Regions from separate parts of the Homo sapiens genome. Here regions 1 and 2 are each linked to region 3. Evidence: fine-mapped expression QTL. A gene starts in region 3. Each other region holds a variant in brackets. All regions are shown on one strand. Distances are between the middles of the regions.

Region 1 (10,697 bases), 79 kb before region 3:
ATACCTATCTTACAAATTAAGTTGATGGCTATTTCTTTCTTTTCTTTTTTCTTTCTTTTTTTTGAGGCGGAGTCTCACTCTTACACAGGCTGGAATACAGTGGTGCGATCTTGGCTCACTGCAAACTCTGCTCCCCTACCCCTACCCCGGGCTCAAGCAATCCTCCTACCTGGGACCACAGATGTGTGCCACGACACCTGGCTAAGTTTTTGTTTTGGGGTTTTTTTTTTGTAGTTTTTTGAGACAGGGTCTCATTCTGTCTTCCAGGCTGGACACAATCTTGGCTCACTGCAACCTCTGGCTCCCAGGTTCAAGCAATTCTCTCATCTCAGCCTCCCGAGTAGCTGGGACTACAGGCCTGCACCACCACACCCAGCTAATTTTTGTATTTTTTGGTAGAGATAGGGTTTCACCATGTTGGCCAGGCTGGAGTTTTTGTATTTTTGGTAGAGACAGGGTTTCACCAGGTTGGCCAGGGTGGTCTCGAACTCCTGAGCTCAAGCAATCCTCCTGCCTTGGCCTCCCAAAGTGCTGGGATTACAGCCGTGAGCCACTGTGCCTGGACAGTTGACTACTGTTTTTTTAAACTGTGATCTGTGGTGCTAATGCCATGACAAAATTAAATGCAAACATGGGCAATGACATCATAGTGATAGTACTCTATTATAAATTATTCATTCAGATGAACCATCATATGCATCTGTTAATTTCTGAGGTCATTAAAAAAATTAAATCATAAAGTTAAAAATTATCAAAAAGAACTCTTAGATACTCCAAAACATATCTGTGGAATCTGGCTTAGAAACACTATGCAGATCAAGAGAACGAAGTTATCATGGTATCTCTGGATTTAAACCAAAGTATTTGGTAAGGTCCCTCCTGAGTTTTCCCGTGCCATCATGTAGTGATACATCCTTTTGGCCACTGGGTTCAAAATTTCATCTCAAAACCCAATAAGCCCCTCAAAACTTGCCCCTAAAATTTACAAGTTCCTAGATTTACTAAAGATTATACACACAGTAGCAAAGGGAAAAAAAAGTCTTATGACTCTTTAAAAGATTATGTCTCTTCATACAGCATGTATAAAACAATCAGCTAAATGAAACTTCTTCCCAATTATGTCGTACTTAAAATTGCATTCATTTTAGCTTTCCCATGAATTTTTTTTCCCTCATGCACTTTTATCGTAAGCCATTTGTATTATTTGTAAAAACTTAACAGGTTTGTGAAGGAGCAATTTTTTAGAGGTTTTAGAGGTATAGGCAAGAGAGGGATTTTAGTAAGTCCAAGTTGTAACGTAATAGTGTATGACTTCAATTATATTCTTGAATATGTTAAATATATTAAAACATATTAACTTTATATTGGCGGCAAGAAATGGCATTAATATATACATTTCTCTCTCTTTTTTTTTTTTTTGAGACGGAGTTTTGTTCTGTCACCCAGGCTAGAGAGCAACGGCGCGATCTCCGCTCACTGCAACCTCCACCTCCTGGGTTCAAGTGATTCTCCTGCCTCAGCCTCCCAAGTAGCTGGGATTACAGGTGCCTACCACCACACCCAGCTGATTTTTGTATTTTTAGTAGAGATGGGGTTTCCCGATGTTCAGGTCTTGAACTCCTGACCTCAGGTGATCCATCCACATTGGGCTCCCAGAGTGCTGGTATTATAGCAGTGAGTCATGGTGCCCAGCCAATATATAAATTTCAAATCAGGAAATGTAATTAAAAATTCAAAGTTATTTTTAAATCTCAATTAATAAGTTAACAAAAATAGCTTAAAAAATGATTTGTGGTCAGTGTCCATGAACCCGCCACATTAGAATCTTGGGTTGTTTATTAAAAATTGAGGTTCTGGCTGGGTGCGGTGGCTCACGCCTATAATCCCAGCACTTTGGGAAGCCAAGGTGGGCAGATCACGAGGTCAGGAGATCAAGACCATCCTGGCTAACACAGTGAAACCCTGTCTCTACTAAAAAGATATACAAAAAATTAGCCGGGAGTGGCAGCGTGCACCTGTAGTCCCAGCTACTCGGGAGGCTGAGGCAGGAGAATGGTGTGAACCTGGGGGGCGGAGCTTGCAGTAAGCCTATATTGTGCCAAGGCACTCCAGCCTGGGCAACAGAACGAGACTCCGTCTCAAAAAAAAAAAAAAAAATTGAGGTTCTTAGTTCCACCTCAGACCAAAATAGAACCCATGCAGGTGGCTATGAATCTAAATTTTAAGCAATGCTTATACATTTTAAATTTAATATAAAGAGGCAAATCTATCACTGTTTACTAATTTGTTAAGCATTCTAGGATAATTATAACTGATGGGTATCATCATAAATATGTACCTTACAAAGAAACTTTAAGCTCATCACTTGGATAAGATAAAAAGAAATCTCAGAAAACAGTTAACACTCCCTAAAATATAAAAACTTTAATAAACAAATATGTTTCATCAATGAAATAACTCATTTTCATACAAATAAAATTAACTGAATTACTTACATATGAATACTTAAGATGAACCTCAAGATAATCTTGCAGAATTTTTTAAAGAATGTAACTATGTTTCTAAACAAGGAAGTACTCTTGACAAAATTCTTCTTGCTTCCTAGTTACCAAAGTTCTCATAAGAGAAAAATATTTCACCATTTCCTCATGAAATTTAATAGTTTTATTAAGTGCAGATTCACTAATGCCTTACACTGTATCTCTAACATCACATCCTTTTGATATGAAAAAGCATGCTGAACTAACTCTATAATAGCAAAACAGCAACATATAGCTGAGTTGCATGTGATCAACCAAAATTTTGACCTGCTAATAGAGAAAATTCATAAATAGGAAATAAAGTTATCTATAAGCACTTTTATAAACATAAAGTACCATACACAAGATCATATACATAATGTAACTCAAAATAAGCCAGAATTAGACTACATTACTGACACTTTTAAATAAACTCCGGACTTGAAGTAAAAGATGAGCCCTATTTTCCAGTGTTATAATAGTATCTAGATGTTATTTGCAAATAACTAAAGATCTGGAAAAAATTACAAAAGGAAATCCCAGAAATCCACTAAAACTGCCACTTCAGAAAGAGTAATTTCCTTTTAAAGGTCAAGAATCACATTCTGGCCAAGCGCAGTGGCTCATGCCTGTAATTCCAGCACTTAGAGAGGCCAGGGCAGGCAGATCGCTTGAGGTCAGGAGTTCGAGACCAGCCTGATCAACATGGTGAAACCCCTCTCTACTAAAAATACAAAAATTAGCCAGGCATGGTGGCGCATGCCTGTACTCCCGGCTACTCGGGAGGCTGAGGCAGGAGAATTGCTTGAACCCAGGAGGCAGAGGTTGCAGTGAGCCAAAATCATGCCATTGCACTCCAGCCTGGGCAAGAGCAAAACTCCATCTCCAAAAAAAAAAAAAAAAAAACCAAAAAAAAACCTTCTATTAAATTTCTTAAACAGTTTTAATCTCATACAAACAAAAGCAGAGTCAAATTAACTGTGTAATTGTGTGGCTTTAATGATTTCATGTGGCTTTAACAGAATTTAAAACCCTGAATGTTTTTGGTTTTAACAGAATTAAAAATTCTCAATATTTCTGGTAGGCATAATTATGAAATTAGTGCAATAACTGAGACATCTCTGAATACATATTATGGAACACAAATTTTTGTTTTGATACTCCATTCTCCAAGTTCTAAATATATTAAATTTTACTAGAAAAAGATACTATGTGATTGATTGCAGGCATTTTATATGAAATAATGAATATAAATGAAAATAAGGTAACTAAATGTAAAGCTTTGGGTCTCTAGCTCAAAAATAATCACATTTTCCAAATAGCCCCCAACAGGTTTAATTAAAAAAAAAAAAAAAAAAAAAAAGGGACATATACTGCCCCCAAGTGGTGAAAAAAATTAAGACCATTTTGGATAAGAAAGATCCATAAAGTAAAACGGAAAGACTGAGAGTAATTTTATTTTCTCCAGATTCATGAACTCTCTGTAGAGAATAAACTTTTTAAGTAAAATGGAAAATTTGTTTTCTTAATTGCTGGTCTCAAAACTCAGAGATATGCCTAACAAATACCTTAGTTTCTCTTAGTAAACCACTATGGAGTTGTCATTATTGCTATCATTTTCAGCATTTAGGTGAGTTTCCTGGTATTTTTTGTTTTTGTTTAGTAGCCCTTAGCCTGAGGCCAGTCCCATTCTGTGCCAGGTTGGATGGATCAAGGTGCATGAGAAAATCTTTGGTATTTATGGGAACTGCAGCTGCTCTAAATGAGGAGGAAATTTCAGAGATAGCCAGAGAGGGGAAACTGAATTCTCTGGGTAATTTCTGCTTAAGTATCTGGCTACCCTCTAAACAACATATGTGTAGGACAGACTCTGAGCAGCCCCAATAATACCAAAAAAAATTGAACTGAAATTTGAACACCTGCCCAATAGACAGAGTATGCTGTTTGAGTACAACCAAGTAATTTCCTGCTAAAACAAGAACATCACCACCGTTTAGAGGTACATAAAATGCAGAGTCTCAACAACATAATACTCACAATGTTCTCATCTACACTTACTCGATGGTCTAAACAATTTTAAGTTACTTGACATCTGAAGAAAGAGGAACATGTGACCCATTTCTAAAAGAAAAGACAATCAACAGAGATCAACTCCAAGGTGACCCAGTGTTTGGAATTAGCAGACAAGAATTTTAAAGCTCCTATTTTAACAATTCTCAGTGGTGTAAAGGAAAATATGTTCATAATAAGTAAACAAATAGAGAAATAAAAGCTATAATAAATAACCAAACTGAAATTCTAGAAGTAAAAAATTCCACACTTAAGTACTTACTCAAGAGAAAAAACATGTCCACACAAAAAACCATACTCAAATGTTCTCAGAGCTTTGTTTGTAAAGTCTCTGAATCGGAAATAACTCAAATGCCCATTAAATGGTAAATAACTAGAGCCATTCAATGTAATACCACTCAGTAATGAAAAGGAAGAAATTACTGACAAATGGAAAAAAAAGTTCAGCATTTTCCCATAAAATTAAATGTGACTGGCAGATGGATAGATGGAGAGGTATTTGATAAGACAAATACAATAAAAATGTTAATGGCAGAAATTTACTGATAAATATACTGGTGTCATTGTGAAATTCAAGTTACGTTTGAAAATTTCTATAATAAAATGGCAAAAAATTACACTCTGGGGCAGGTGATCAATTTTGAACAT[G/A]CTAATTTTGGGAATATAAGCTGATTGATAGTTATTAAAAAGAAAACACATTCATTTATAATCAGTCCACTTACCTTTTGAGACCTTCCTCCAATCTGCCCTACTAGTTTGGTGTTCCACTGCTCAGAAAAACTTTACTGTCTACAAACTTGAGATTATACTTTGTGCTTCCTCATCAATAAATGTATTAAATTTTTTTTTTTGAGACAAACTCTTGCTCTGTTGCCCAGGTTGGAGTGCAGTGGCACAATCTTGGCTCACTACAACCTCCACCTCTCAGGTTCAAGCGATTCTCCTGCCTCAGCCTCCTGAGTAGCTGGGACTACATGTGTTTGCCACCACACCTGACTAATTTATGTATTTTTAATAGAGACGGAGTTTTGCCATATTAACCAGGCTGGTCTCAAACTCTTGACATCAGGTGATCTGCCCACCTCGACCTCTCAAAGTGCTGAGATTACAGGCGAGAGCCACTGTGCCCAGCCCAATAAATGTATTAAAATGTTAAATAATGAATAAGATTGGATTTAACAGTTGTATCTGAAGAATACTTCTATTTTTGTTTTTCATTTAGTTCTTTTTATTCCTTTTTTTTTTTTGGCTCTTATCCTTCACCTACTAAAGAGAAAACAATTTCCTGAGAATTCATGATAACACTTCTTACAAAGTCTGCCCATTTCTCCCAAGAGGTAGAAGCAATTCAGGTATCTATTTATAGATGAATGGATAAAGCAAATGTGGTATATACACACAATGGAATATTATGTAACCTTAAAATAGAAAAAAAAAAAAGCGTAAATTAGTTCAACCTGACTGTGAAAGACAATTGTGGAAGACAGTGTGGTGATTCCTCAAGGATCTAGAACTAGAAATACCATCTGACCCAGCAATTCCATTACTGGGTATATACCCAAAGGATTATAAATCATGCTACTATAAAAACATGCACACATGTTTATTGTGGCACTGTTCACAATAGCAAAGACTTGGAACCAACCCAAATGCCCATCAATGATAGACTAGATACTGTGGCACATATACACCATGGAATACTATGCAGCCATAAAAAAGGAAGAGTTAATGTCCTTTGCAGGGACATGGATGAAACTGGAAACCATCATTCTCCGCAAACCATCACAAGGACAGAAAACCAAACACCACATGTTTTCACTCATAAGTGGGAGGTGAACAATGAGAACACTTGGACCAGGGAGAGGAACATCACACACTGGGGCCTATCAGGGGGTGGGGGACTAGGGGAGGGATAGCATTAGGTGAAATACCTAATGTAGATACGGGTTGATGGGTGCAGCAAACCACCATGGCAGGAGTATACCTACGTAACACTACCTGCACGTTGTGCCTATGTACCCCAGAACTTAAAGTACAATAAAAAAAAAAAAGAAAATTCTGTCACATGCTACAACATGGATAAACCCTGAGGGCATTATGCTAATTGAAACCAATCACAAAGGGGCAAATACTGTAGGACTCTACTCATATGACGAATCTAAACTAATCAAAATCATAGAAACAAAGTTAAAAAATGGTTACCAATGACTGGGGGAGGGGAGAGGGAGAATCAGTGTCTAGTGGGTAGTTTTCAGTGTTGCAACATACAAAAGTACTAGAGATCTGTTGCACAATGTGAGTATTCTTTACTGAATTGTATACATGAAAATAAAGTCTTAAATTTAATGTTATGTTATTCACTGTAATTTTTTAAAAGCCTGCCAATTTTTAAAAGCTAGAATTTAAAACCTGTCAATGGCTTTTTGAAAGTCTATATAATTTGTTCTCTATTTTCTCTTTATATATATGTGAAATATAATTTGTCCATTTGTACCACTCTGTTGACCTTCCCCCATAAGGGGAAGTATTTAACTTGCCTAAGTATTCACTGATCCTAATCTTCATGCATTACACAAGCTCAGTAAGCATAAAAGAGTGCTTTATCAGTTTTAAGTGTGGAGGTCTTTAGTTTCTAGACTCAGGCAGGCAATTTACCAGCTTTCAAGCAATTACACCTACTTCAAGTGCTCTGTTTGATAGCAATATTATACATGTGCTGCAGTTTCAGGTTCATCCTTTAAGTCCCTTAAAATTCTTGGGTGAATACCATCTAGTCATGTTTTTTTCCCCAAAGCTTATATTGTATCCAACTTTAAAATTACATAAAGTCATTAATAAGACTAATGTTGTTTATCTTAAAATATCCAACCTTAAATAAGTATGAGTTGAAGAATAAAATATTTGTTGAATCACTTTATGAAGATCTTTTGAATAATGTCATATGAAAAATTTGGATCATGTCTTATTAAAAGTTAGTAACTTCAGGCCAGGTGTGGTGGCTCATACCTGTAATCCCAACACTTTGGGAGGTCAAGGCGGGCGGATGACGAGGTCAGGAGATCGAGACCATCCTGGCTAACATGGTGAAACCCCGTCTCTACTAAAAATACAAAAAATTAGCCAGGCGTCGTGGCGTGTGCCTGTAGTCCCAGCTACTCGGGAGGTTGAGGCAGGAGAATGGCGTAAACCCAGAAGGCGGAGCTTGCAGTGAACCGAGATCGTGCCACTGCATGCCAGCCTGGGCGACAAAGCGAGACTCCATCTCAAAAAACAAACAAACAAAAATTAGCTGAGTGTGGTGGTGGGTGCCTGTAATCCCAGCTACTTGGGAGGCTGAGGCAGGAGAATCGCTTGAACCCGGGAGGCAAAGGTTCCAGTGAGCCGAGACTGTACCACTGCACTGCAGCCTAGGTGACAAGAGTGTGACTCTGGCTCAAAAAAGAAAAAATTTAGTAACTTTATGGTGGTTGCAGCTATATATCATGGACCTTGTCCTGAAACTTACTATGGCAGTGTATCTTACTTATTGAACACTTATTGAACAAAGTAACACTTCCTTTTATTTGTCAAATTTAGGAAAACAGAATCAGTGTACACACTTTTACTGGATATATTTTCAATTTGTTCACTACAAAATAAAATATTAATTCCTCTGTTAGGACTTAGAACAGACACCTCGAAACATGGCACCCTGGCATACTGAGTATTTTAACCTGAAGGAAATTAAGAAAACTGCAGAAACAGGGGGGTCTCCCTGACCTTCTCCCAACCCATCTCTCTTGAAGTGGGCCACATAAATGAAAATTCCCCTTGCCTCTTTCTCCCTTGAAGCAGGTCATCAAACCTAGGAAGGCCACTCTCTTTCTCCCTCCCCTCTCCCCTAAGGTGACAGGCGTCCTGCCCTATACCTAATGGGAAGGAATGTCACAGACAGCCCAAGAAGAATGTGAACAAACAAGCCTTGCTAAATTCTCCCAGTTGATTACCATCAGATCATACACTTTTGTCTTCCAATCATACTTATGCATGACAATCCACAAAAATACATTTTCCCTGGGTCTTTTAGTCTTCATTTCTGAAGGTTCCCATGTCACATAAAATTTATATTAAATTATACATATAAATTATACATAAATTTGTTATGCTTTTCTCTTATTACTCTTTTATTATTGGAGTCTCAGCCATAAACCTTGCAATGGGTGAGGAAAATATATTATTTTTTCTCCCACTATAGTTAAGAGGAAAATTTACTCTTTTGGGTCAAGAAACTTAAAATTAATGACACCATTGGAAAAGTCGAAATTTTCTTGCTACTTCCTTTGGATATGATGGGCATTTCTCTGTTTTTATTGTCTGCTTCAGGCCAACAATAAGTATATATATGCAGCCCACAGACTGAAGAGGAAAGAAACATGAAATACCACTGGGCAAAAAACACTCAGATAAGAACATTCCAAGTAACAGAAGAAAAAACAGAAAACTTCAAATGAAAAACTGACAATTTCATTTAGCACTTTCATAAATTAGGGGTTTGTGATTAGTTTTAAAAGTCTAGAGACAATGGTTCTCACTGATGACAATTGAACCTCAGTAACCTGACAGTGTCCAATCACCTCTTCAACCTCCCCCAGCCTCATTTAAATAACCCAGATCTTTTTGTAAACCCTCCTCTAGTGGTCATAACATTCTCTATCTTCCTTACTCACTTATAAATATATTCTTCAGTTGTTTTTTAAATCGAAACTCAACTTTTTGTGACATAATTAAAACTCTAGCTATTAAGAGATAAATTATCTCACTTTACTAAATTATTATTCTTTAAACCACTATTTAGATATTAAGAAAGTCCCACAGAACTAATCAGGAGTAATTCAATCAACAAACACCCCTCTGTTCTAGTAGTTTCCCCAAATATCATAATCACAGAAACACATACTATTGGCAATACCCCAAATATACATGACTCTTTTTATTACACGGATAGCACTAAAGTGGGGAGCCTTAAACATAACTATAACTGGGTATCCAACAGTACTACCTACACTGTTGGTTAACAATTACATGAATGTCCTTCTACCGTTGTCGACAATGAGAAAATTTTTATGGTTACAATGTGATTTTAAATACAACAGCTGTCATCTCTCTTAAGGAAAAAAACAAAAAACAAAAAACAAAACAAAAAAACAAAAAAAAAACAAGCCTTCCCTGGCTCCATGTTTCCTGTAATTGCCAACTCTCTTTGTTCCTCTATACAGTAGTATTACTCAGAAAGAGTTGTCTATACTCTATGTCCAGTTTATTTCCTCCATTCACTCTCAAACACTGTAATCAAACTGCTGACCCTATCCCTCCTCCAGAACTACTCTTGACAAGGTTTTCAATGACCTTGTTAAATACAATGTCAATTCTTAGTCTTCATCTAACTGTACCTATCAACAGCATTTGAAACAGCTGATCACTCTCTTTTCCTTGACAAACTTTTGCCCTTTGATTTCCTGGACATAAAATTCTCTTAATTTCCCTATTTCACTGGTAACTCCTCCTTCTCTCTCCCACATTTCAATGTTGAAGTGCCCTGGAGCTCAAGCTGTGGTCTTCCTTCTCTTCCCTACACTCACTCTCCTTTGGTAATCTCATCCTGGCTTTAAATATCGTCTTTATGCTGATGACTCTTGAATGCTTATCTTCTAAAGTTCACACCTGTATATCCACATACCTTTGACTGTACATCTAACAGATCTCTCAAACTCAACATGTCTAAGATCCACACTCTTTTGCACTCAAGTCGGCCTCATTCACAACCTACCTATCTCAGCTGAACAGAAATCTATCCTTCCAGTTATTCAAACTAACATTTTTTAGAGTTAATTTGACTCCTATCTTTCTTTAACATCCTCCATCCAATTCATGACTCTACCTTTTTTCTATTGGCTCTACTTTAAAATAAATCCAGAATCTACCACTTCCCCTGCTACCATCTAGATCTGAAACACAATAATCTCTCCCCTAGATTACAACAGCCTCTTAACAAGTCTCTTTGTTTCCATCCTTATAGCTCTACAGTCTGTTCTCAGGAGAGAACTTTCTTTAAAAAACATTATCCAGGAC
Region 2 (10,697 bases), 200 kb before region 3:
GATTTCTCATTAAACACAGAGGTAAAAACCAAATCTATCTTAAAAATGATTAGTAAAAAACTTAAAATGTCACCAAAGTTTGCCAAACCTGTTTTACCAGTTGATATTCTCAGAAATCAAAGCTCTGTCTGTCTAGTCTGCATTTATACTTAGTCTGGGCATTTAATCTCCCTTTTGTTCTCAGTTTTGCCATACACTGTAAGTTGTTTTTTATGGCCTTAACATTCAGTTAGTTTCATAAATTGTGAAATCATTTTGTACTAGCAAACAGCTTATTTTAAAACTGCTTAGAAAAATAAAAGAGTTACAAACAATTAAAATGAATACTGTGATTCTTCATATGGGTTTCTTTAAGTTATTTACCTCTTGTGAAAGCTGTGTTACTTGGTCCTTTCGATGTTCCAGATCTTTTAAAATCAGCGAGTTTTGTTTTTCTAATTGAAGCACTCTTCTTGCCAAGTGAACACTAGGCAAATGAAATAAGAAAATTAATGCTTAAAAGTGAAATACTGCCCAAAATATTCAAAATGTGTTTGTGTACTTGAAAATAGACATCATTTCCTAATTATACTTAAATATTAACAGAAAAAATATAGAGTCAAATAATATTTTCAGGCACCAGTAGTGGAAGACCAATACCCCACAACTCAGAATTATGAGAGTAACAACATTAAAACATAACCGTGATAGACTGATTACTGCAGTAACGGTTTTTAGCCCTTGCTATAAAAGTGGAGAGGTAACATTATAACACTTGCTTGAAAAGACCACAATACAGCAATTTACAGCTTGTCTCCACTTTTATAAATATTTTCCAATTACAAATCAGAAAATTAGTTGAAATATTACAAACAATAATTAGCTTATCACTTTGAGAAGTATCAGAGTTTACTTTAAACAACATAATGCATGTTATAATATAAAACAAAAATGAGGTTTTTAATTGAAAGTGGAGATGAAAAAGATATATAAAACTTAGAGAATGTCTATAGTAAAGGCTAAGCTTCTGTACTAAAAGAAAAAAATCACTCCCTCTGATGCTCTGCATTACCATAACTTATTGCACTGACCTTTAGTATTTAAAATTACATATGAAACATCTCAATTCTACTTTTAAGAAACAATTTTAAGAATAAAATCTATTCCTTCTAACTATGGTGGGAGGAAGTGGTATATTTCTTTAAAGAACTGCTAATAATTTTGAGAAGACATATTGCTCCAAAGAACCTCTCTGCATTTCCAGTAACTTAACATTTTCATATTTATCATATTTTCATATTTTATACTAGTTAACCTATTAATCTGTGAATTGCAGAATCCATGGAATCCTAGATGGAATGTTTTATAATGACAAAAAGTAAGATAACTGTGCTTTAAATAAAATCATAGGGCAGAAAAAATTCTATTGTATTTTAATATTTCCCAATATCAGATAAAGAAATGCAGACAACATTCTAAAAAATAATGTTAAGGCCAGGCGCGGTGGCTCATGCCTGCAACCCCAGCACTCTGGGAGGCTGAGGCAGGAGGATCACTTGAGGCCAGGAATTCAAGACCAGTATGGGCAACAGGGTGAGACCCTGCCTCTGCAAAAAATACAAAAATTAGCTGGGCATGATGGTGCATGCCTGTGGTTCCAGCTACTTGGGAGGCTGAGATGGGGGGATCACGTGAGCCCAGGAGTTCGAGGTTACAGTGAGCTAGGATTGTGCCACTGCAATCCAGCCTGGGGTGACACAGAGACCCTGTCTCTAAAAATAATAATAATAATAAATAGTGTTAAATATCATTCTATATATCTATTTCTAAGAACTCATACCAAATAAAAAAGATGAGTTCTGGCAAAAGTTTATAAAGTGATTTGAGTTGCTTGTTTAGATCTAAAATTCTTTCAACTGGCATTAGAGATGGAAAAAGCATACAGTCCTCATTTTTTGACAACCACTTTTTTTTTAAACTTTACTGACATACAATTTTACTGATATGCAACTTAAATATCATAAAGTCCACCAATTTAAAGTGTACAATTCAATGATTTTTAGTATATTTAGAGTTGTGCCACTATCACTATAATCTAATTTTAGAGCATTTTCATTATCTCAAGAAGAATTTCTGTGTCCATTACCAGTCACTCTCCATCCTCCCCACATTCCAACTTCCTCCTTTGCTCCTCAAATTCAACCTTAGGGAACCATTAATCTTTCTCTCTTTATAAATTTTTAAGGAGTTTACAGTTTATGACTATATTGTTCTTCATTTCCCAATAAAAATATACTAAGTTCTCTCTAATTTGACCCTAAAATAACAAGATTTCTACAAATAAAATAAGCCTTAATGTGAATTTTGCATTTAAAATCCGTTGATTCCATTATACGTTTGCAAGCATCAGTTTATCATTAGCTCTATTTTTATTAGGTTAATTAAAAAATCTTGGAGCTATCTTTATTCACATTTTTATTCTTGCTTTCTTACTCTTCATACATGTTAGGTGTTAACTTTTTTTTATCTTTTTGTGTCCCACAGAACTTCACACTAGGGTCACTTAAACATGGTAATTTTTCAATAAATATGTTGAAGGTGTAGAACAAGTATGTGTATACTCAGTATAGAACAATAAACACAATCAAATGCAATTACACAGAACTAGAGTTACAAATGAATGAAATGGAAGACAAAGACATGCAAGAAAATGAGATGCAGAGGTCACATATTACCAACAATCTGAACAAGATAATGACTTGAAGACATCAAGTTTAATAATGTTAAATTGTTCATTTGGTTTGAGTGCTTTTATTTTGTTTGGGAATTCTATAATGTTCTTATACAGATAGGGTGATACCGCTTACCAATAAAAATATCATAAGTCATAAAACACTGACTCAAGAAATTCTTGCCGGGTGAGGTGGCTCACGCCTATAATCCCAGCACTTTGGGAGACTGAGGCAGGCAGATCACCTGAGGTCAGGAGTTCAAGACCAGCCTGGCCAACATGGTGAAACCCTGTCTCTACTAAAAATACAAAAATTAGCTGGGCGTGGTGGCAGGCGCCTGTAATCCCAGCAACTGAGGAGGCTGAGGCAGGAGAATCGCTTGAACCTGGGAGGCGGAGGTTGCAATGAGCTGAGATGGTGCCATCACACTCCAGCCTGGGGGACAAGAGCAAGACTTCATCTCAAAAAAAAGAAATTCTTGGTATGCTAGTGCTTAAGCCTTAACACCAGGACTACTTTCTTCAAAAAGGAATTTCCCTGATTTTGACTGGGAGATTCCAAGTAAGGAAAATCAACTCTAAATAGAAGGAAAGTATCTAAGGTATCTTCAAATTGCTTACAAATATACTCTACAGTGCTTTGATTACTAGTTTATAGTACAATTTTACTGAGAAAAACTTTCTGAGAATTGATGGTGACGGGAAGGACCGTGAGTATTAGTATGACTGTTGATGTCATTTATGATGCATAATGATAATAATGTAGAAGACAACATGGTACAATTGGTCTCCAGTATATATGGGGTTCACATTTTAAAAACTCACCTCTAAGTCAGTTGTAAGAACAGTAAAACACATTTCCTCATATATATATGTATATATATATATATATATGTATATATATGTATATATATGTATATATATGTGTGTGTATATATATATGTATATATATATATATGTGTATATATATATATACACACATATATTAGAAATGGTATTAAAGTTCTCAGTTGCCCTAAAAGACCCATTTAGCCCACTAATGTAGTACAAACACACATACACAGAAAAGAACAAAAGATAATATAAAATCTTTCATTAAAAGATTATACTCAGATTTATTAAGATTGTATTATTAAGGATATAAGAGATTATATTAAGATTTAATGAAAAGAAATATAAAGATATATTTAAGCAAAAGAACACAGCAGAAACAAGAAATATAACTGTTTTTCATCATTATAATACTTACAGTAAAACAAAAACAGTAAAAAAAAATTAGGCCAAGGCAGGCAGATCACTTGAGGCCAGGAGTTTGAGACCAGCCTGGCCAACATGGCAAAACCCCACCTCTACTAAAAACACGAAAATTATCTGGGTGTGGTGGCACACATCTTTTTTTTATTTTAATTTTTATTTTTGAGTTGGAGTCTTGCTCTGTCACCAGGCTGGAGTGCAGTGACGCGATCTCGGCTCACTGCAAGTTCCGCCTCCCGGGTTCGCGCCATTCTCCTGTCTCAGCCTCCTCAGTAGCTGGGACCACAGGTGCCCGCCACTAGGCCCGGCTAATTTTTTGTACTTTTAGTAGAGACAGGGTTTCACCATGTTAGCCAGATGGTCTCGATCTCCTGACCTCGTGATCCGCCCACCTCGGCCTCCCATAGTGCTGGGATTACAGGCGTGAGCCACCACGCCCGGACAGTGGCACACATCTTTAATCCCAGCTACTTGGAACGCTGAGGCACAACAATCTATTGAACCCGGGAGGCAGAGGTTGCAGTAAGCAGTGAGCCAAGATCGTGCCACTGCACTACAGCCTAGGCAACTGAGTGAGACTCTGTTTCAAAAAAAAAAAAAAAGGAAATTACTATTTTTTCTTGGTGATGAATATCAATGACTGCAGAAAAGCAGGGTGAATTAGAAGAAACACACTCATTAATTCATTCGAAAAATATTCATGAACACTTCCTTTGAAGAAACATGTATTAAAAACCTATAATCTGCATAGGCACTGAGAATACATAATATCTACTGGGAAGATCTAATAGTCTACTGAGGAAGACAGGCAAATTTAAAAATTACTGTAGTATGCTAAATGCTAAGAAAAGGCATACCACTAAGGAATAAAAACTATACTAACTAATCTGGTGAAGAAGCAGAGAAACAGCATTTTAGGTAGAGGGAAATGCCTATGTAGAGGATGAAGTGCTAGGGAAAATTCTAAGTAGTAGAGTATAGATCAATAATATATGGTGCATGGTGAGGGTTGAAGCTAGAGAGATATAGGCAGAGATATTTTATGAAAAGCCTTGTATGTTTGGATTTTATCCTGAAGTTGGTTAGACATAACACGATCTGGCCCGCACTTTAGAAAGAGTGCTCTATCAGTAGTGTGCAGGATGGCCTGCAGAAGGAAGAAGACTACAGTCATTTAGAAGGTTATGATCATAATCTAGACCAGTGGTCTTTAAAAGTAGTTATGTGCAAAATTATTTCTTGAACTGTGGGAACTTTTACTTACATTTATTTTAATGTTAAATTATCTTAAGTTTTCATTTGCTGTGTAGGTTTTATATCATTATGTGCATACTATTCATATGATAGCACATGCGTACATAATCTATAAATAAATATGAATACATATGCATATATTGCTGAGTGTGTACTCAAATTTTTTCCCAATAAAAATTCGTATCAAAAAGTTTGGAGACCACTGGTCTAGGTCAGCTTTGTCCAATGGAAATATAATGCAAGCCACATATGCAATTTAAAATTTTCTAGTAGCCACATTAATAAACAGTACAAAGCCCTTACCTCATATGATACCAAAAAATTAATTAGAATGGATCAAAGACCTAAATACAGAAGCTAAAACTATAAACTTTTAGAAGAAAACATATGAGTAAATCCTCACAAAATTAGATTTAGCAAAAGATTCTCAGGGCAGCAAAAGCATAAGTAACAAAAAAAATTGGATAAACTGGACTGCATCAAAATTTTAAAATTCTGGGCTTCAAAATGCACCATTAAGAAAGTAAAAAGATTTTAACCATTTCAGTTTTGTCATGAAAAAGAAAAACAGGGCCGGGTGCGGTGGCTCATGCCTATAATCCCAGCACTTTGGGAGGCTGAGGTGGGCAGATCACTTGAGGTCAGGAGTTCGAGACCAGCCTGGCCAACATGGTGAAACCCCGTCTCTCCTAAAAATACAAAAATTAGCTGGGTGTGGTGGCAGGCGCCTGTAATCCCAGCTACTTAGGAGGCTGAGGCAGGAGAATCACTTGAACC[C/T]GGGAGGCGGAGCTTGCAGTGAGCTGAGATTCCACCACTGCACTCCAGCCTGGGCAACAGAGACTCCGTCTCAAAAAAAAAAAAAAAAAAAAAGAGAGAGAAAGAAAAAAGGAAAAAAACAGTGAAAAGACAATCTGCAGAATGGAAGAAAAAATTTCTTATCACATATCAGTTAAGAGACTTGAATCCAGAAAATATAAAAACCTGTTACAGTTCAACAATAAATACCTGGTACAAAGGAGGTACTTAGAAATTATCTATTGAATGAATGAATTCCTGTTCATTCATATCTCCTGTTTCTTCATAACCCAACCAATACTGAGCATTGTCAATCTTTGGAAGTTTTGCTAACCTTATAGATAAACATAAAATCCTGTTTTAAATTAAATTTATTTGTGAGATTAAGCATTGTTTCATGTTTGTCAGACATCTGTATTTCTTACATAGTGAACTGATGTCTATATCCTGTTCCCACTCACTTTCAAATCTGACCTTCATGGTTAGTTTTACTCTATCTCTAAATTATTTAAAAATATCAAGACCCTCTATAATCTCACTGGAACTAACCTTATTTGCCCTTCATGTCTACTCTACTTAACGTCTCACAAATATGTTTTCTGTATTCCTTCCACTGCCTTTTCTTGGTCCTCCAGTCTGAAGATTTTCTTTAAAGGCTCCCGTCGAGTTCCACTTCCTCCATTTTTGACTGTGCCAGCCTTCACAGATCTCTATTCCTCTGACTGACATAGCCTAACCCAACATATGATATAGTACTAAAGTTTATATATTCTTTCATGTATGTTAATCATTTCTCCCTAAACAGATGCAACTCATAAAATGACAGGAGTCTTATCCCCTGTGGTATCTAACTGTAGAGCTTATCAGAGTAGGTACTTAATAAATCTTCTTTTTTTTTTTTCTGGCAGGGTCTCACTCTATTGCCCAGGCCAGGAAGTGCAATGGTGCAAACATGGCTACTGCAGTCTTGACCTCCTGCGCTCAAGTGACCCAGCTCATCCTCCCACATAGCTGGGACCACAGGTGCATTAGGGTGATTGGCTCATTTTTAAAATTTTTGTAGAGGCTGTGTTTCACATTGTTACCCAGGCTAGTCTCAAACTCCTGGGCTCAGGTGATCCTTCCACCTCAGCCTCCTACAGTGCTGGGATTATAGGCGTGAGACATGTGCATAGCGATAAGTACCTCTGGACTGATCTTGTTGTAAGTGCATTTTGTTCAAATGAACACACTGTTAGAAACCATACTCCGAAGTTGCAGCACCTCAACATTAAGGTACACCTATTGCCAATAATGGGCAATTAAAGAAAAAAAATAAAGTACAACTAATGCTCAGTATTAAGCATTGAACTAGCAATTAAAAAGTGCACAAAGAAGAAGGCAAATGTCTTAGATACCAATTCACCACTTCTATATTCAACCTCCTAAAACTTTAAGTGGGCATATTGCTTTGGTGAGTGATTTGGTGCTATAGGTGGATCCTCTTTAGAAGTCTGGGATCTTACAAGTGGGAAGAAAGAAGAGTGTTTAAATGAAATTCAAAACAAGACAAATGAAGAACTGCTCAACTACAGCTGAGTTTATGCCTCCTTAACACAATAAACATACAATGAAAACAAGTCCTAAGATCTTTATTTAAAAAAATTTTTTTTTGAGTTAGAGTTTCGCTCTTGTCGCCCAAGCTGGAGTGCAATGGCGTGACCTGGGCTGACTGCAACCTCTGCCTCCCAGGTTCAAGCAATTCTCCTGCCTCAGTCTCTGGAACAGCTGGGATTACAGGCGCCCACCACTATGCCAACTAATTTTTGTCTTTTTAGTAGAGGTGGGGTTTTGCCATGTTGGCCAGGCTAGTCTCGAACTCCTGACCTCAGGTGATTCACCTGCCTCAGCATCCCAAAGTGCTGGGATTATAGGCGTGAGCCACCGTGCCTGGCCCTGCTAAGATCTTCAAGAAGAATAACTATAAACATGGTCAGGAAAAATGACTCTTGCTAAATGTTATTTTTGGTGTAGAATGTACTGAATTTCTCAAGAAAGCAATGCTTTTTATAAGCTATCTATTGGGACACTTAAATAGATACAATACTTCTTTGTAATTAATACATTAATTGCTTAAATGATTTTCACTTATACCAAGATTAAGTTTGATATCAGCTAGAAACTACCACCACCAGTATATTGGTTGTACACCTAAATATTAAACCAAAATTTCACCTGTTACTTGGTCAAATTAGTATTCCTCCAAGGGTTATCTTTTAGCTCTCTTAGCACTTCTTGATGCCAAATACAGGTTATTGGTTTTGGCTCTGTCCATGGCAGTCTGTATTTCTGATTACTACATACAATTTCCTAACATTTTTAGCCTAGCAAATGTGGACATGACAGAGTTTTGTTTATATCTGAGATATCAAAGCACAATGGAGGATTGACGCTCTGTTCTGGGTTCTTCAGTATTGGTACGGTGTCTTACTATTACCAAAACTCGAAATGAGCAAGAATATGTGAGGCATGCTTATTAGCTATATTAGTTATTTGATCTTTCTCAGTTTTCAGTAGATCAGAGTCCTGTCTCTACTAGCATGGCATCAAAGATGGTTGCAAAGAAGGGGACATGTGCCAGAAGGATCCCACTTTCAAAAAGCTTAAGGCTGGTCCTTATACTATCTACTCAGCTGGAAATGACTAAGGACTAAACAGTGATCTCATGCTGATTATCTGTAGTTACATGAGACTGTCGCTAGTTTCTTCTATAGGCTTACACTTCCAAATTTATCATGAATAGAAAAGCAGCAACTTTTTAAAGAACTATTCCTAAAGCCATCCCAAATGAAATGAGTACAAGTTTCCCCAAGGACAAAAATGAGAACTCATATATATGAGAATAAAGGAAAGGAAAACATGTTTGTCATACACAAAATTTTGCTAGTTTCCTCTGCTTTATTTTTTTTTATTATGAAGTTCAGTAAACTGAAAGTTTTAACTTAAAGCTTTTTATAAAACGAGAGAAACTATAGTACGCAGTAATCTCACAATTTGAAAGGTTTAAGAACGTCAGAACAGTCTCCACATTCAGATTAGCCAAAACAAACACAGAGGCATATACAAAGACCATGTTAGTGCCTGGGTGTCACCATTTAGTGTGGCAGGTTAAAGGGCTTAACCAAAACATGTAACTAGAAAATCATGTTTGCTATTTTCAAAACAATCACAACTGAAAGGAAAACATTACTTCAGATTTTCAAGTTTAGTCAAGGAGAGCCCATTTTATTTTAATCTACTTTAATTGTATAAGCCCTTGTAACTTTCTATAATTGTGTCCCAGAAAGAGTTTTAAAAAATAGGCTGGGTGTGGTGACTCATGCCTATAATTCCAGGACTTTGGGAGGCTGAGGTGGGATGATTGCTTGAGGCCAGGAGCTCCAGACCAGCCTGGGCAACACAGCAAGACCCTGTCTCTACAAAAAAATAAAAAATAAAAAAATTAGCCAGGTACAGCGTGCATGCCTAGCTACTCAGGAAGATAGAAAGGAGGATCACTTCAGCCCAGGAGTTTGAGATGAGAGTGAACTATGATGGTGCCACTGCATTCCGACCTGAGTAACAGAGTGAGACTCTTAAAAATGGACTGATACTAAAGAAAGTTTCATGTTTGGGGGGTATCCCTGCTAATTATTTCAAGAGGCTTCTGTATAATTTTAAAACAATATCGTCTTAAATGAAAACTCAAATTGTGCCTAGTAAAAGATTTCAGAACCCTGGCTTTTCCTCTAAAATTAACTATGTAATTTACTTTAAGAACAAACACATCAAGGTGTAACGACCTAGCACTTACTAAAGATCTACTCTATGTCAGGAACTTCACATCCATTTTCTCATTTTAATTTTGTGGTATTGCCTGGGTTGCAATAGGCAACTAATGATATTTTTCAGTAACTATACAATTAAGTAATGAAAATATAGCACTCAAAAATGGAAGTACTAAAAATTAACGTTTTGGATAACCATTAAAAATGACCTTTCTGAAGAATATCCAATGACATAAGAAAATGTTTACAATGGAATTCTATGACAATAAATTAAACTATTAAATTACAAGCAATAATATCTTAAATAAGAAAGTATATATATATATCTGTATACATTTCCGAGTGGTTATTTTGGATGGTAGGATTACCAGTAATTTTCCAATTTTATGAAATAAACATGGCTTGGTGTGGTGGCTCATGCCTGTAATCCTTGTAGTTTGGGAGGCCGTGGTGGGCAGATTGCCTGAGCTTAGGAGTTTGAGATCACTCGAGACCAGCCTGGACAATATGGTGAAACCCTGTCTCTACTAAAATACAAACAATTAGCCAGGCGTGGTGGCATGCACCTGTAGTCCCAGCTACTTGGGAGGCTGAGGCAGGAGAATTGCTTGAACCTGAGAGGCAGAGGTTATAGTGAGCCGAGATCATGCCACTGCACTCCAGCCTGGGTGACAGAGTGAGTGAGACTCCAACTCCAAAAAATAAAAATAAAAATAAAATAAAATAAACATTACTGTTATAACAAATCAGAAATCTCCTTCCAATTAAATGCTACCCTAAAATATCTAATTCTGGTTGTTGAACATATAAGATTTTAAATCAAATTTAATATGAATGGAATCTATTGTGTAGTAGTTGGAAAATAGGTTCCTTTGAAA
Region 3 (10,697 bases):
GTGTGTGCTGTTCCCCTCTATATGTCCACATGCTCTCATCATTTAGCTCCCACTTATAAGTGAGAACATGAGGGGTTTGGTTTTCTGTTCCTGTATTAGTTTGCTAAGAATAATGGCCTCCAGCTGCATCCATGTCCATGCAAAGGACGCGATCTCATGCTTTTTGTGGCTGCATAGTATTCCATGGTGTGAATTTTTTTCACATATAGACTTGCTCATGGCTTAATAAAGCTTATATGAGAATGTATACATTTCAGAAATTAAGTAGATTTTTCAAGTGGGAGAAGTATGAGAAAATAAACTACAGTGTCAACCCACATATCCCAGCTTGAACAGTAGCCATTTTGAGGATAACAAAATGGCCTTCATCTTATCAATGGTTCTCTTCATCTTATCATGGTCAAAATGGCAGCACATAACAAGCTTAGCAAATAGCAAGTAAGCTCTGAACTAGGATTACTGCATTCAGAAACCTTTTGCTACTTCATCAGAGGGACTTCAAGAACATGAAATACTCAGGTGATTGCTGGAAACTGTAAAAATCACTGTGGCCAAATACTCTAGAGTCAGATCAAACAAGATTCTAAGAAGTCATACAGGGGAGAGCATCCTGACCAGCATACCACTGAACACCAGTATGATGCATATAGGTATAGGTGTGGCCTGAATGTTGAGCCTTTGCAGGGTGGCAAAGGAGAGGGGACCTCAGGACTGGTCACCTACATGGCCAAGACTCACCTGCTTACACTGGTATGCTTTTCAGTTACAATTTTCTGTGTGGATGGTGGCATGAAAAGGATGGGAAGAATTGAAGTAGAGGGCTAATATGTAAGAAGAGATACTGAAAGACACTGCTTGTTTCTAAGGATGAAACGAGATGCTCTGTGAAGAATATATTGACTATCCTTGGTAGAAGCCATAACCATTCATTGAATTATATTATTAAATTAAATTATAATATTTTCCCACTCTTTTCCATTCTTCTATATGATAAATCTATGTACTAAGAGACACCAAGATTATCTTTATAAACCTTTGCAGACAATATATCATTTAGTAGTAAGAACAGAAGCACTGTGTTACAACTTTGGTCTAATTATATTTTTGACTCTTGACTCTTAGTATCTTGTACTTCTTCAGTGTTTCTTACAGTCCCTCACAGTACTCAATAAGTATCTCTTGACTGATCAATATAATAATTGTCCATCATTCAATATATTGAAGAAATGAGACAAAATAATTAAGCATAATTAAGTTCGTGTGAAACAAAAAATTAGTCACTGTGACTCATTTGCTTTTAGATATTCATCTCACCTTCTCTTTCAAAGGTATTATTTATTTACTTATTTATTTATTTTATTTTTTTGAGATGGAGTCTTGCTCTGTCCCCCAGGCTAGAGTGCAATGGCATGATCTCAGCTCACTGCAACCTTTGCCTCCTGGGTTCAAGCGATTCTCCTGTCTCGGCCTCCCGAGTAGCTGGGATTACAGGTGTGCACCACCATGCCCGGCTAATGTTTTTGTATGTTTAGTAGAGATGGGGTTTCACTATGTTGGCCAGCCTGGTCTTGAACTCATGACCTCAAGTGATCTGCCCGCCTCAGCCTCCCAAAATGCTGGGATTACAGGTGTGAGCCACCACACCTGGCCTCAAAGGTATTATTTAAATTTAAGTTAAAATCCTTTCATGCTTCATCCTCATTCTATTCCCTTCCTATTAACACTCTGGGTGGACATTAATTTTATGATTGAATGGTCATCATGTTACCAAGCAAAGAGAAGATGGAGGAGAAAAGCCAGTAAGTATTTACCAGAATATCTCAATATGTGTGCAACGTTGTGTGACTGAATTCTTAAGTCAAAGGGAAAAGGATTATCCTTTGTTTTGGACTAACAACATGTCTACCTTAGGACAGCAAATTAAAATCTGGTCATACCATGTATTTGATTTTTTTCAAATATTAAAAAATCAGACTATAAAACATATAAACAAGAGTCCCTAAAACTACAAAAGAATAATAGGACCTTACACTTTGTAATAAAAAACTAAATCTGCAGTACATTAGTGCCTTGAAACCTAAACAACACATCAACAAATAAGACTGCACTGGGTGATATGTAGAATTCTAGAAAATGTAATTCAGATTCCAAGTGAATTGTTACAGTTGGATGATGTCTAAAAAACCGCTCTGTTGCTAATGGATACCCTTCCATTCAGTGCATACGTAACTCTTTGAGGGGGTTTTAGGTTTCCCCAAACATAGATAACAATGAAACAGCATTTTGCTTTACCCCAAATCATCAAAAAGACAAACTGAAACAAGTTAATGGCAGAAGCCACAACCATGTAGAAAAGTGCAAATTTCAAAATGTTCTTCTCTTAACTGAGTGCTAGGGGTACAGAGCTGTCACCTCAGTAGCAGAGGGAAAAGGTTACTTGTAAAAGAAAAAGGTATCTACTCAGGTCTGGAACTGTTGGCAAGAAAATCTTTCTGAATGTAGTTCTTTGAACTCATTCATTTAGATAGAAAAAATCTGCATCAAAATTTTTTCTCCCTGATACCTTTACATAGAAAAATACTCAACATTTAGAATTTCCTACCTCTCTTCACTTGAGAGTGTTATTAGACTTAGGTGCAAGAAAGGAAAACTTACCGAGAATGACTTAAGTATAAAGCTTGACGATGAATATCTTCTGGGTCTATTTCTACAGGATTTATTACAGCTAGTTGATCAATAGACCATCTAAATTTCCCTGGAGTCTTAACAAAAGAAAGTGAGCTTATGAGTAAAGGCAAACTAAAATAGTTCATCAAAATGCTAACCTATGTGAGAAATAATATGAATGGTTATAATATGAAAATATTTTAAAGCTTGTATTTTAAAATTTGACTTTACCATGAAATTAAATGGCAAAGGGTAATCATATCACATTCGATCAACTGACTTAATTGTATCTCTCTCTCTCTTTGTTTAAGACAGAGTCTCGTTCTGTCACCGAGGCTGGAGTGCACTGGTGTAATCTCAGCTCACTGCAACCTCCACCTCCCCGGTTCAAGCGATTCTCCTGCCTCAGCCTCCTGAGTAGCTGGGATTACAGGCACCCGCCACCACACCCAGCTAATTTTTGTATTTTTTTTTTTTTTTTTTTTTTAGTAGAGATGGGGTTTCACCATGTTGGCCAGGCTGGTCTCAAACTCCTGACTTCAAGTCATCAGCCCACCTTGGCAGTGCTGGGATTACAGGCATGAGCCACAGCGCCCAGCCTGTATCTCTTTTAAAATATCAGAATCTTTCACCTGGGTTGGAATTACGTAATACGAGAAAAATCACAACAGAGTAATAAAGATATAAAACTTTCACAATTAACACTCATCAGTGTGATAAACTAAGCCCATGTAAAAGTAAAAATCTCTCACAGTTAACAAACGTCTTTACTTTCACTAAGAAGGAACTGAAATTAAAGTCCTTAGTCACTTTGGAGGTGGCTGCAAAAGCTCACAACATAGTTGATCCTTAAAATAATTATGAATGGCAACCAGTGCTGCCTTTCTGTACTCAACCATGCAACTGAATTAAAGGTTTATCCAAATCCTAATCTGTAATTAGAAATATATTCTAGGCAAATTCAGTCCTAAAAACGCAAGATGCCATACATTCCAACTTTGAGGATTAAGCTGCCGTCAATCTATTATTTATTTTTAGTAAGACCAAGAGATAAATTTTAATGATTCAATTAAAAATCATAAGGTCAGATTGATGAAATGACTCAATATAAACTGCTCGACCTTCCACTAGTACATACTTGCTCATTGTAAAACCTGTATGAAAGTGTAGCAGAAACAGCCACCCTATTTGCAGTTTTTCTAAGTAACTTGGTAGGTTGAAAGATCCAAGGTCAAAAGAACTTATCCAGTGTAGCAAATAACAGTAAAATAAGATAAAGTGGCCCGGGCATGGTGGCTCATGCCTGTAATCCCAGCACTTTGGGAGGCTGAAGTGGGTGCATCACATGAGGTCAGGAGTTCGAGATCAGCCTGGCCAACATGGTGAAATCCCATCTCTACCAAAAAAAAAAAAAAGATAAAGTGATGAAGCCTTTTCTAATATCCTGAAGAACACTTTTCCTTCATATTACTATTGTCCTAAGTACTAATCATATCACCTATCACACTGCCTTGATATTACTCATCTAGTTCTGTTTAACACATTAAAATAGGGGTTAGTTTCTTTTTATAATAGATTGCAAGCTAAGAATTATTTTGACAGTTTCAAATGGTTGGGAAAACAAACAAAAAAATATCTTGTGACATGTGAAAATTATATGAAATTCAAATGTGTCCATAAATAAAGCTGTATTGGAACAGAGTAACATTTATCTCTTTACACATTGCCTATGGCTGCTTTTGTGATACAAGACAGAAGTGAGTAGTTGTGACAGAGACCAAATGACCTGTAAAGCTTAAATATTTACTGTCTGGCCCCTAACAGAAAGTTTGTGACCCATACATCGGAGTATAACCTCCTTAAGGATTTGTGCCTAATGATCCTAACTTGTTCACAGTGTAATCCCTGCTTAGCACTGTATCTGACACATAGCAACACTCAAATAATGTTTGCCAAATAAGTGAGAACAGAATATTAGATGATGCAGCTTCTTCTCTAATGTATTAGTAGCTATATCGTCAACCACAGAATGTAGCTACACCCACAACTGCAGGAAGCTAACGTATGTTCTTGAACTTAAAAAAAAAAAAATCTTCTAGCTAACTTATTAACCTAACCACTAGATTATAATGAACACTACAATTTAAAAAAGTATATTGCAGCTATATATGCTCCATAATGTATTTCCTCCTTACCTTGTAAAGACAGATGTTTACATTTAAAATTATTTGTAATTACTTACATTTAAAATTAGTTGTAAACACTAGTCAGGAATAACTTACTGGTAATTTTGTTGATTTAAAAACAGAAGGACTGGCGAGAGTTTGTTCATGGAGATTAGAATAATCACTAGGACTTTCAAAAGGATTTAAAACAGGGATCCTTCCTGGAGTTTCTGGTGTTATTTGCATCTTTGATTCCTTGACATCTCCCATAGCACAGAGAGAAAACTAAAAAGAAATCAAGAGTATGCATGTTAAAATTACAAAGTCCCATAGATATTAATTTTAACTATTAAAATGTACTCGACAAATGTGTCACAAAAAACAACTCAAAACCTCACACTCTTGGGGCTATGATACAGCTTACAAAAAAAGTATCACATATAAATGTTCTCAACTGATCCTCGAAACAACCTTGAAAGCTATAGCAGTAACTTACTAGTGATATTATTTTGCGAAAGTATTAAGCTCAGAGAAGTGAAGTGGCTTATACGCAGCAATCAAATATGAATGAATTCAGATCTGCCTCTGAGGAAACTAAAGGTTACAACAGGCCCAGATCTCTTCTCAACTAAAGGACTTATAGCTACAATTTTTTTTAAATTCATCATCTCATGTCTCAACACTATGAACATTCTTCGGATACCCTATCCAACTACAGTTGCTATTAAACAATTCTTTGTAGCAAGCAGGTAAGAGATGAGGAAGCTTGTGCCTTTCTTGCACATGAGTCCTAGCCAGAGAAGTATGATTGACAGGGGCTAGGAAATTAACTGCCTGGGGTCCCCTTTCCTCCAAAAATCCTCCTTTCGCCAAGACCTCCCCTCCACCCCTCCCGGGATAGAAAGGGAGACTGCATTACTTGCAATCAAAGGAGGCTACAGAGGCTACACCTTGGCGGGGTGGGGTGGAAAAGAGTCTACTTCTGGAAGGTTGAGATGCAGCCGGCTTCCCTGGATGGAGTGCGAAGGAGGCGTCGCCCCCAACCCTACGTGGCCACTCTTTCTGGTGCCCCTCTCTTCCACACCTACTCCCTGACTGCTCCCATTCACCAGGGGCGAGCGGGCAGGCAAGTCAGGAGCTGGGAAAAGAAACCTCTCCATTCAGACAGGAGGAAAGGCCAGGGACCACAAAGAGCGTACCTACCGGTGCGTACAAAACGAAGCCCCCAGTACCGACTCCAGGGAGCTCCGGGGGCCAGGCCAGCTTCCACGACAGGCATAGACTCTTTAACTCCCCGCTTCCGCGCTGTCTTGGGCCAACCAGGGCACGGGGCTTGTGAGCGACTAGCCAATCGTGTCGTCCCGCCATCCGCGAACCAGCCAATCGCACGGAGGCCGCGTAGGAAATTCGAATGGCAACTCCTCGCTCCACGTTCCGCGCAGAGGAACGTGGCTCCAAATTCAAATCAACGCAGCCTCACGCCGGCGGCGAGCGCGAGGGGCGGAGCCTGCCCGGCGTGGGCCGAGACGCGCTGTGTGATTGCCTCGGAGAGAGGAAGGCGCTCCAGTTCCGGGTCAGGCCCTTCTCCCGCCTCCCTCGGCCTTAGCCATGGCGAGTAGCAGCGGTGCTGGGGCGGCGGCGGCGGCCGCGGCGGCGAATCTGAATGCGGTGCGGGAGACCATGGACGGTGAGTTTCCGTTGCGCTCCCTTTACCTTGCGTGCCTTCCCAGAGCCAAGGCCCCCAGGCGGGAATGAGCCTGGGGAGGACTTCAGGTCCCCTTAGTGCCCCAAACGGCATCTTCCAAGATCTTTGGTAGGGACCTGCCAGGGCCGCAGGGCTGATGGCCCTATCCCTTGAGAGTTGTCTCCGCCGCTGCGTAGTTTGTCGCGCGCGCTAGGCGTTGCGGCCCCTAGTCAGCCGGTTGCGCACCGCGTCCCTCTCGCGCGAATGCCGCGCCCCCTCTATCCCGCATCCCAGGTCCGCCCTACCCGCCCGATCTCCTGCGGTGACAGCGTCACGCCCACCCCACCCAGTACACCCGTTCCCTCCTGCGTGCCGCGTCCCACCCGATTCCCGCCCGGGGCGCTTCGGGGGTCCCCAAGGTTGGGATCCCGGCGGGGACAGGGGCCAGGTGTTTGGTCACCGCTATGCCTCCTGTTCTTCGCACTTAAGTAGGCACCTTTAATATCCGGCGAATGAACAAGTTCCCCTTTGGTCATAATTATCCTAGTTTCCTCTTGAAGCGGGTGACACCAGTGCCCAAGTGCTATGGTGTCGCCTGTTTTCGGCCCCGGAGGCACGTGTGTGTGAAGCCTACACAAGTGTTGCAGAACACGAAATTTGTGTCTTGCGGTTACCCTCTGTCTACCCTCTAATGTCGGTTCTGCCACTTTATGCCCCTGTGGTGAGCTTGGACTAGATACTTAAACATCATTGAGCCTGTTTAGTTTTTTTTTTTTTTTTTTCTGTAAAATAAAACCCTACCTCCAGGAGTTGTGAATATTTAAATAAGACAACCATGTAAAAACATATCAAAGATGATCAATTATTTTTATATTATTTCAGATGGCCTCTCTCTTGTAGTCTTCTTTCTTTGTCTCCTTTTTACTCACATCCACCTGTATTATGAGTGTTTGATCGATGTTGTTATTTGCAGTGGGCCTAGACGTTTTCCAGGGTCTACTCACGTCAGCTTCCGTCTCTGTTAAAAGATAACCCTATGAAATTCTCACTGCTGTATCTCTCTCTCCTTCACCGTAGGCTCTTTTTTTCTTTTTTGAGACACAGTCTTGCTGTAGTTGCCCAGGGTGGAGTGCAATGGCGCAACCTCGGCTCACTGCAACCTCCGCCTCCCGGGTTCAGGCGATTCTCCTGCCTCAGCCTCTGGAGTAGCTGGGATTACAGGTGCCCGCCAGAACACCCGGCTAATTTTTTGTATTTTTAGTAGAGACGGAGTTTCCCCATGTTGGCCAGGTTGGTCTCGAACTCCTGACTTCAGGTGATCCACATGCCTCGGCCTCCCAAAATGCTAGGATTACAGGCGTGAGCCACCATGCCCGGCCTCATTTTCTTATGTAGCACTTGCAGAGGGGCTGCTGGCTTTTTCTGCACTGGTCCTGGTTTTCTTTTCAAAGAATTACACTTTTAGAGCCTTTGCATCTAATTTTTCACTTGTTCAGTATCTACCTTGCTGTTTTTCTGAGAATGTTACTCTTAATATTCAGCTTATTTTTCTATCCTTTTCGATGTATCAACACTTAATAGTTTTATTTTGTAAGTGGATTTATGTATGAATATATATATGTGTGTGTATATAAATATAAATTTACTGTCTTGTATATTTCCTTGGAAAAAGGTAGAGTATAAGACCTCACTTCTAGCCTATTTTCTTAGGTTAGCTGTACTTAGGTTCCTTATGTATATGGCCACAGGATCCCATTTGAACAGAAAACTCACATTTTCTCTGGTGGAATCACTGATGTACAATTGAGAACTGATGGTTTGTGTTGGCTGCATCATCAAGATCTCTTCTGAGAAAACTTGGTGTGAAATGAAGATTATAAAGAGAGTAAGAACACAAAAAAGTGAAGTAAAACAAAAAATGAAGGAGAGGGGATGTGGTGTTACACAGTATTTAAATCAACCCGTGAGATCAAAAATAAAATTTTCAAAACTTTTTGAATACCATTTCTCCCCTCAATGGTAGCATTTGTGAACCTCCCTTTAAGTCATGTGAATTGCAGAACTCTTGGCTACATTTGCATTTTGATCATGAAATGAAAGGATTTTGTTAAAGACATGGAAGGAAGCAGGCTAACTTTCTATTAATAAATTATCTGTGCACCTCACTCTGAAAAGAACTATCTCTGCCAATTTAGAATAAGGTCTGCATGAGATCTCTGCTTTCATCCTTATATCCCTAAAATTCTACACGCTTAAAATAGTCGTGCCTTTTCAACAACACCCCCCTCGCAACCCACTGTGTATGGTTGCCTCTTTTGCTTTTCAACTTTTTGGTATGTTAGGTACTCTCTATTGATTGCTTTTTATACCTTAATTTTTATTTTCCTCTAAAATCGTCCTGTGCATCTGAATTTTAATTTTGATAATTATTCCTTATGAGAGGCTTTATCATAGCACTATTTTTTTTTTTTTTTTGAGACCGAGTCTGGCTGGAGTGCAGTGGCGCGACCTTGGCTCACTGCAACCTCCGCCTCCCAGGTTGAAGCTGGGGATGGGAACCAATTCTCCTGCCTTGGCCTCTGGAGTAACTAGGATTATAGGCGCCCGCCACCACGCCCAGCTAATTTTTGTATTTTTAGTAGAGACAGGGTTTCACCATGTTGGCCAGTCTGGTCTGGAACTCCTGACCTCAGGTGATCCACCCGCCTCAGCCTCCCAAAGTGCTGGGATTATAGGCGTGAGCCACTGTGCCCGGCCTGTAGCACCACTTTACATATATATATGTGTATATATATATATATATATATGTATATATATATATATATTTAGTAGTAAGTACGGGTGCCTGTAATCCCAGCTACTTGGGAGGCTGAGGCAGGAGAATCGCTTGAACCTGGGAGGCGAAGGTTGTCGTGAGCTGAGATTGCGCCACTGCACTGCAGACTGGGTGACAGAGCTAGACTCCATCTCAAAAAAAAAAAAAAAAACACGTTATAGAGAAAGGAGTTAAGAGAATCTATGGTATATAGATTCCATTTGACTAGCACTGCAAGGCAGTACCAGCGAAACAGTCCATGCTACCACCATCAATCCAGTTGCACATTTGAGAAAGAAATCTAGAAGTCAGTCTTGCTTTCTCACCTCCTCTGCCTCCTGTTCTTCACTAAGCCCTTTCAATTCTTGACTCATTTCAGGTTGGCTAAATATCTCCTGTTCATCCTACCCACCAGTCTTTTATCAAAATTGTGATATAACTGGACTTTTTAAAGATTCATTTGATACTCAGCCAAAAAGTCCTTAAAATGCAAGTTTGATTTTTTTATGTTCCTATTTTATATCATCCAGTAGCTTTCCACAGTTCTAAGATCTTCACTAGGACTTACCTCATATTTTATACCCATTCACCCCGTTAATTACATTGCCTTCACAATAGCAGTTCAGGTCTGAATTTACCAAGTTCCCTCTAGTGTAGGGACCATCACACAAGCTGTTTTCTTTGCTCTCAACCATCACCCTTCCTCCTGCCTCTGTATTAGTCTGGTTGATTTCTACTCACTTTTGATGTCTAAGTGTAATTGTCACTTCTTCAGACAAGTCTTTGCTAAACACTGTGTCCTTCCAAACTTGGTAAGATGCCCTTGTAATTTGTTTCAGAAGTATTCCACTCTTTATTTATTTTACTTATATCTGGAATCAGTTATTACTTTAATATCTATCTCTCCTCCTGGACTAATATCTGTGAGGAGTGGGACCATATATACCTTGTTCATAACTGTATTTGCAGCAGTAGCATAATAGGCACAAAATACATATAGTTAGAGGTTGATTATCTCTCATCCAAAAACCTTGGGACCATGTTTTGGATTTCAGATTTTTTTTTTTGTAATATTTTCACATACATAATGAGATATCTTGGGGATGGGACCCAAGTCCAAACACAGAATTCTTGTATGTTTTATATATACCTTATACACATAGCCTGAAGGTAATTTTGGTTTTTTCCCTCAGGGATGCTGAATGAACTGTGTATTGTGCACCTGCATTTTGACTTTGATCCATTATATGAGGTGTGGAATTTTCCACTACGGTGTTATGTCAGTACTTAATAAGTTTTGGATTTTGCGGCATTTCACATTTCAGATTTTGGAATTAGGAGTGTTCAACCTGTACTGATCATATGG

Direction of the effects. Positions count from the first base shown, and alleles are read on the strand shown. Sizes are in standard deviations (SD) of each study's normalised expression.
For the expression in adrenal gland of the gene that starts at base 6,120 in region 3, allele A in region 1 goes with a lower level than allele G (large effect, 1.3 SD a copy in GTEx).
As copies of C replace T in region 2, the expression in tibial artery of the gene that starts at base 6,120 in region 3 goes up (moderate effect, 0.62 SD a copy in GTEx).

What was found. PIP is the estimated chance that this variant, and not a neighbour inherited with it, causes the effect. A credible set is the group of variants that fine-mapping cannot tell apart.
Region 1: its variant is the best candidate, but not a certain one, in a credible set for the expression of BORA in adrenal gland (GTEx, PIP 0.73).
Region 2: its variant is the best candidate, but not a certain one, in a credible set for the expression of BORA in tibial artery (GTEx, PIP 0.58).

Annotation. Positions count from the first base shown.
Region 1 is chr13:72,802,318-72,813,014 of GRCh38, reverse strand. All of the region lies in intron 5 of PIBF1 (progesterone immunomodulatory binding factor 1), which reads right to left. Among named protein-coding and RNA genes, the nearest start is that of PIBF1, 26 kb to the right of the region's middle. The variant G/A (reference allele first, on the strand shown) is at 5,238.
Region 2 is chr13:72,920,934-72,931,630 of GRCh38, reverse strand. It overlaps PIBF1 (progesterone immunomodulatory binding factor 1), which reads right to left. Exons shown (of 18, transcript NM_006346.4): 14 at 364-466. Among named protein-coding and RNA genes, the nearest start is that of KLF5, 130 kb to the left of the region's middle. The variant C/T (reference allele first, on the strand shown) is at 5,996.
Region 3 is chr13:72,723,346-72,734,042 of GRCh38, reverse strand. BORA (BORA aurora kinase A activator) reads right to left here and starts at 6,120. Exons shown (of 12, transcript NM_024808.5): 1 at 6,036-6,120; 2 at 4,950-5,117; 3 at 2,656-2,762. The coding sequence starts at 5,102. MZT1 (mitotic spindle organizing protein 1) reads left to right here and starts at 6,414. Exons shown (of 3, transcript NM_001071775.3): 1 at 6,414-6,519. The coding sequence starts at 6,441. RefSeq lists enhancers at 5,839-5,888, 6,609-6,678 and silencers at 6,099-6,248, 6,772-6,953, 6,909-6,968.